Homo sapiens: one gene and its partner. The protein of the gene in region 2 interacts with the protein of the main gene of each other region in a pairwise test. Each region holds a gene or a part of one and is shown on either strand. Other genes may lie near its edges. The genes, in order: SMCO4 and SLC41A3.

Evidence for each region.
Region 1: the proteins of SLC41A3 (region 2) and SMCO4 interact in binary tests that used the Homo sapiens proteins (3 or more experiments, as listed by UniProt).

Annotation. Positions count from the first base shown.
Region 1 is NC_000011.10:93,536,642-93,540,461, reverse strand, and holds part of SMCO4 (single-pass membrane and coiled-coil domain-containing protein 4), read left to right. Parts: intron 1-3,820.
Region 2 is NC_000003.12:126,005,703-126,008,656, forward strand, and holds the end of SLC41A3 (solute carrier family 41 member 3), read right to left. Parts: intron 1,524-2,954; coding exon 1,314-1,523; 3' UTR 863-1,313; coding exon of another isoform or gene 705-862; 3' UTR 655-704; downstream 1-654. UniProt on the Homo sapiens protein: Na(+)/Mg(2+) ion exchanger that acts as a predominant Mg(2+) efflux system at the mitochondrial inner membrane.

The DNA of each region.
Region 1 (3,820 bases), on a different chromosome or scaffold from region 2:
AGACTCTGGAAGCAGTGTGGTGAAGTGGTTAAGTTCAAGCGTCTTGGGAGTCTGGCAGGCCTGGGTGTAAATACTGAACCTGCTGCCTGACCTCTCTGAGCCTGGTTTCCACATGTGTAAAATCAGGATAATACTGTCTGTCTTATATTCAAGAAATGTACCCACTAATTGCAGTGGGTGCTGAGTAAAGATTGGCATCCACTCCTTTCCCTTGCACACAGGTACTTGGGTCAATGGGATTGAGTAAGTCTTTCAGCAGTTGTCCTCAGGGGGAAAAGGCTTAAAGTACTTTTTGTACTTATCAATGATTCTTCTAGCCTTTTTGCCTTCCCACCCTAAGCCCCAGCACGCGCAATGAATATTCCAGGGCCTGTGATTGTCTTGTCCAAGGGAATTGAAAAAATCGTAAGCCAGAAAGGACAGGTCTTTGATAGAAAGTTGAAAATGGATGTAGCTGGTTTCCCTTTGCCCATTTTGTGGCCTTCCTCCTTTTTTTTTTTTTTAAATTAATTTTGTTGGACAGGGAAAAGATACAGAATTCAGGGGGTTCTAGCTGGAAGGGGGCCCTGGAAGAGCCTATAGTATAGGGCAGCTAGAGAGAGGAGTGGGCTGGCTGACGGTCAAAGCTAGTTTGGTGTGGGGGAAATTTCTGTTAGATGCAGGATTTGGCTTAATATGGGACCAATTTCCATCTAGTCCTTTAAGGCCCTCTTTTGGGACTCTGAAGTTTTTGTGCTCCAGGCAGATTTTGACTGGTTGTGGTGGCATCACAAATGAGTTTCCATAGTAAATTGTATGCTGAAAGGAAATTAAATTCCAAGAGGGTGTTTGTTGTGACTGATGCCAGAATTTCCTCTGAGAATTTTATTAACATTCAGTCTGTGAAAGTACTTCTTAGTTCTCTGAAGATAATAATTAGGAAATAGTTTTTAAAAAGTAGAAGTGTCGTCTTTGTGAGCTTTTGAAATGTCATCTTCCTAAATCTTTGGAGCAAATGAGGCTCAAAACATCATAGAGACTTATATTTTAAAAGCATTTCTTCCTAAATGTACTGTTTTCCTTCTCTTCCTGTTCCTTCCGTCCTCCTACATTATTTTGATAATGAGTTAATTTTGGTTTCTTTCACATTGTGGTGGCCTAATTTTTAAATTTATGACCCTTCATTTTTAGATCTTGCATGTATTTTTTTTTTTTTACCCTTGAGTCAATTCTCATTGATTATGAAGAGCTGGTATAGCAAGATGGGAAAGAGAGAGGACCCTGGAGCTAGGTTGGTGAGATCTAGGCTCTTTAGAACTTGGATTCGGTCCTCACAGTAGCTCTGGGAGGCTGATCATGCTATTCCCAACACACAGATGTGGAAATGGGTGCAGAAACACATGTGTGTTCACATAGCCAGCAAGTGGTTTATCTAAGTGTCACTGCAATGATCTGTAGGACTCCAAAGCCCATGCTTCCAGCTGGAAAGGCAGGCAGGGGCCTTGCATGCTGTGCCAGGGTTGGGACTTAGTCCTGTAGGCAGAGAGGGTCAGGCCTGTATTCTAGAAAGGTAGCTCGGTGGCTGTCTGGAGTTTTGAAGTGAAGCAAGTAGAAATTAGGTGTAGAGAAACTAGTTCATTAAAGTAATGTCTTGAGAGATGAGGGCCTGAACAGAAGACATTAAGACAGTGGCAGTGGTTGCGGAGAAGAGGGGGCTTGTTGGAATCCATAGAGCTTAGTGCCTTTGGATACTAGAATTGCATCATCCCTTCCCATTTCAGGTCTGATGCCCCAGGGATGGGTGTTGGAGATGCTGACTATGTGCAGGCTAAAAGCAATCTCTGCAGAAACCAAAAGTGCCTCCTTTGGTCTCTGCTAACAGCTAGAGAAAGGTGGCTGAGCACAGTCCGAAAGGGCCTTCCCTTCCCTGTGCCACCCCAGCCTTATCATTCCTAACTTTCCAGGAGCATCGCAGAGAATGAAGTTGGATTCCTCAGACTGCATTTTGGGAAATGCTAGTCAAGGTTAGAAGTGTGGAAGGGAAGACGCCTTCCTGGGGTATTGTCTGCACACCCCTCTTCCCTGGTGGCACAGGGGACCCACCAGGGTTTGGTCCTCAGTTTTGGCTATTCCATAAGAGTTGATCTGCCCTAGATGGGGTTAACTTGTGGTCACCAAACTTGCAGGGGTTGACTGGGAAGCAGGAGTGGCAGTGAACATAATGGCCAGCCCCAAGAGGAGTCGAGGCCAGCCTCCTCTGACGGGTGCAGTCTCTGCGGGGCGCCAAGCCATGCTCAGGGAAGCGGGCATCAGAGCCCAAGGAGATGATTGGCTGGGGTCTGCATGTCCTGTCATCGGTAGGACGCACTGTTGCCATGTCAGGAATATACTGGTTTTGTGCCCTTTCCCCTAGTCAGTGCCAGACGTGGTCATAAACTTGCTTTTGGGCTTCCGTTTTTCCAAATTGTGCAACATCCCTGCCCTTCTGAGAGTTTGTGCTGGCTCTGGTCAGGCCGGAGGTCAGGTGGTCAGATTCTGGCTTTATTTGGGCTGTGTTCTCGCTGCGAGGAGGAAGCCAGGTTACCTCTGTTGGACCTGCCTGCTCCCAGCATCTCCAGCAACAAGCTGTCTCTGCCGGTGAGTCACTCCGTGCAAGAGTCTGCTCACCCACTTTCTGCTTGATGTTTACACTTTTCCCTCAAAGAGGGAACCTCTTCTTGTTCTGAGGGCACTTCTCGGCAGTCCCCTAGAGTGTCCAGTTGTTTCTTTTGTGGGGTAAGAACCCGTGCCAGACAGGTACATGTTTTAATGGGAGAAGAGCATTTCTGCCTGTGGATATGAGCTGTCATGCCTACCTCTTGAACATTATGTCCTGAGCAAAGCCCTTTTCTCGTTCTTTTTGCTTCGTGTTTAGGTGCGTGTTTGGGTGTGTTTGCTTTAATTATTACTGGGAAGCAAAAAAGATATTTATCAAAGGTTTAAATCTATAGCAGTGCCCCTGCAAGCAGAAAGAAGAAGTATATATTTAGCCAGGATATCATTGATTTATCACCCTTTTTTCCATTTTGTTCCTGTTTTGTTGGCAGGACCATCTGATTTGTATACTGGTTCAGTTTGGATTTCAGTAGTGAGTGTGAAAAGATTCCTGGGCTGTTTGCCGAAGTGGAGGGACTCAAATGCGTGGGCTTCAGGGCTGCCAGTCTTGGCTGTCCCTGCAATCCCAGGAGCCTGGCACATGGTGCCTTTGTCAGGAAGGTGGAGTTTGGCCAGGCCGTTTCTTTGGCTTTGCCTGGGAGCAGCTCTGCTGGTGACAGTGGAGGCCTCCCTCTGCCGTGGGAAAGGGAATTCTCTCTTGATTCCGGTTTTGGCTTATTTCTCATCCTATAGGGATGAGAGGGAGGAAGGCCCCAGAACTAGTGAGTTTTGGTGATGAGCAGGTTCAGGGTAGGACTGGTTTGCAGCTTCCACAGAGCTTTTACAGATGTTTTCCTTGCATCCCACATTTTCCTTCTTCCTTGTTAGTCCCAATTCAGTCTGTCATCAGTACTGCAGAAATTGGCTTGAACTTTGTCAGTCTTGGGAAGACCTGGAAGTGCAGCATAGAAACCTGTTCAAATTGGTGCAGCAATTTCACATCAGCATAAGTAGCTTGTTTTGGTGGTGGTGGTTTTTTAATCAGTTTAGGTGCTTTTTTTCTGAAATCATATAGGTAATATGTAAATGTATTCTCCTGCAGCCTGCCCTTGCATTTAAATAGTGCAGAAGGACACAGCAGACTTGTCACATTCCCCTTCACCCAGCACCCCTCCCCAGGTGCCAGCTCCTCCAGGTCCTCAGAGAT
Region 2 (2,954 bases):
CACAAGCTGATGTAGCTGTGTCTCTTTCTTAGAGATCCCCATGCATCTCAGGAAACCACAATCCCAACTATTCTCCAGGACAGGTGAATGTCTGGTAGTGCCTGGCCCCAGGATGCTTCACCCCTTCTTCTGGTCCCCATGCACCTATAAACTGTGCCTTCCTTAAAGTCTGCTCAATTATTCCAGTTAATGTACCATGTCTTTCCTTCTAGAACATTAAAACAAGAGGTTCTATATCAACATTTGTTGAATACATGAATAGATGTCTGTTTTACCACATGAAGATAATAATCTTCAAGTCCAAGCATGGCTACAGTTGTCCTGATGAGTTAATAAGAGACAGGAAATGATCATACATTTTTTAAAGATGATGTTCTCGAGTAGTAGTTCTCAAACGTGGGTGTGTATGAGAAACCTGGAGGGCTTGTGGAACCCATATAGCTGGCTCTACTCCCAAGAAATGCTGATTTGGCTAGTCAGGCCAGGGGGTGAGGGATAATAATTTGCACTTCTAACAAGTTTCCTGGTGACACTGACGTTTCTAGGCTGAAGGCCACTTTGAGAAACACTGCACTAGAGAAATGCCAGATGCTTTTGTTATTTATAGACCCCAAGCCTCAGGGTTGCATTAACTATCTTTAAAGACATAAAGGGTCAAGTACAATATAATCTGTTTTATTTTACACTTCTCTGATTATTGAAATCTAAATAGAGGTTTTTGCTAACAAACAAAAAGGAAAATAAAAAGACAGCAAGGACACGATTAAATGTTGAGTGCAGATGAAGGGTTGTATGAGGCCCCATCCTGGGGAGGCTGTACACCTTCTTGGCACAGCAGCAGTGTGGCCCACGGAGCTTGAACCTGGTGAAGACAGCAAGTAAGCCACAGCTCAAGAGTTCTGAGGCTTGGGAACAGAAAAGAGCTCCTTCCTGCTCCACCCCAATCTGGGTTGCATGGGCATGGAAAAGAGCAAACACACCCTGCAAAGCATACTGGACATGCCTCTTCTTTACCTTCTCAGGCCAGAACACCCTCCTCTCCACAAACGTGTGCACACTTGCACGCTCATTAAGCATGTGCACACATCATATTCACACACTCAAGCCATGCTCTTGATTTCAGGGCTCTATTGCAGGCTCAGGTATCAACCCCAGAGCCGAGGTGTGTGAGAGCTACCTTAGCAGACTCACAAAAGGCTACTGCAGAGGCAGGGGTCAACCATCCCAAGGACCTGGCAAGGGAGAAACTGAATTCTGTATCCCACTGATGTGAGAGGAAATTCTAATGAGCAAATGGGACCAGCGGGGCCCAGTTAGGGAGGTCCAGATGCCAGTTCTGAGATGCCACCCAGCTCTGCCTTGCTCTTCAGTAGCCAGTCAGTGAAAAAGCAGAGTGCCAGGAGGCCAGTACCGAGCAGGTCCCCCAGCCCTGTAAGGTAGGGGATGCAGTGGTTGTCAGGATCCAGGGCCTGGTGCCAAGTCAGCCGAACCATCACTTCTGCGAGGTACAGCAGGATTGTCACCTGTCAGAAGGGCAAAGAGACACAAAAGAAGACCAAGTCAGAAAGTCAAGTACAGGCAGGAAGCACTAGCTGAGGCTCAAGGAGAGATACCAAGGTGGACAGGTCAACCCCAGCCAGCCTCCTTCATCCAGCTTCTCTTGGGGTCTGAAGCCCAGCTCCGAGCTCAAGCAGTGGCTAGAGAGGTGACCCTCATCTGTACTTACCTAGCCTCCCTCTAGTGGGCCCAGCTTCTGGCACCCTGAAGGGCCAATCAGACCCACTGCCACTCACCAGCTGGGGCTCTCTCTGCTGCGATAGGCTCTACTCATGGGACTTTGCCGAGATGTCCATTTGGGTTTGCCTGAGCCCTTCTCCCCTGGAGGTTAGGACAGTCAGCCCTTCCTGAAGGTGCCATGGGGTAGTCCACACAAGCCTGCTCAGGTCTCATGGCTCCTCAATCCCTTGTCCAGGCTAACCCCAGCTCCTTCCTTCTCCCCAACTGGAGTCATAAGCTGCTGCTGCTCAGGACAACTTCTGGGATTTCCCTAATCCTACCCTTTAGGGTCAGGAACATACCACAATTACAAATGCCATAAACTCTGGGAGATGAGAAAGTGCCAGTACCAGCACCACACCCATAGAATTGCCCTCCAGCGCCCACGGTGCTCCCTGCAAAGGCCCCAGACCCACTGGGGACCATCAGCCCGCTGCAGTCTAGGCAGTGTGCTGAATACCTGCCCAACACAGGCACCAGCTTAATCTCCTTCACCATGCTTACTGCTGTCCAGCCCTGATCAATGTCTACGCATGCCTTGCAGCAGCAGACCCTGCAGGGGTCTGGCCCTGCCCACCCACCGTTGGGGAGGCAGTGGATAGCTGGACCACTCCTCAGCCTGTTCCGTGGGAACATGCTTCATCCTCAGGGCTGCTCCTCTTATCCTGTGATGATGAATGTGCTGCGCGCAGTGTGTGGCATGTTGTGTGCCGTGTCTAGCATGCAGTACATAATGTGACGAGTGATGTGCAAGATGACATGTGTAGTATGCAGTGCAGTACGTAGCGTAAGCTGTATAGCATGTAGCATGCAGCACACACTCTGTAGCATGCATGTGGCATGCACTGTGACATGCAGTGTGTAGTGTGTGTGGTGTGCACTGTGTGGTGTGGAGTGTGTGGTGTGAAGTGTGTGGTGTGGAGTGTGTGGGTTGCACTGTGTTGTGGAGTGTGTGGTGTGAAGTGTGTGGTGTGGAGTGTGTGGGGTACAGTGTGTGGTGTGGAGTTTGTGGTGTGGTGTGGAGTGTGTGGGATGCGCTGTGTGGTGTGGAGTGTGTGGCATGTAGCATGTGGTGTGCAGTGTGGAATGGCCTCTGTATTTGACAAGTTGACTCAACTCCTGGAAGATAAGGACTGTGCCCCACACGTCCAGCCACCCCCACCCGCCTCCCTCAGCCT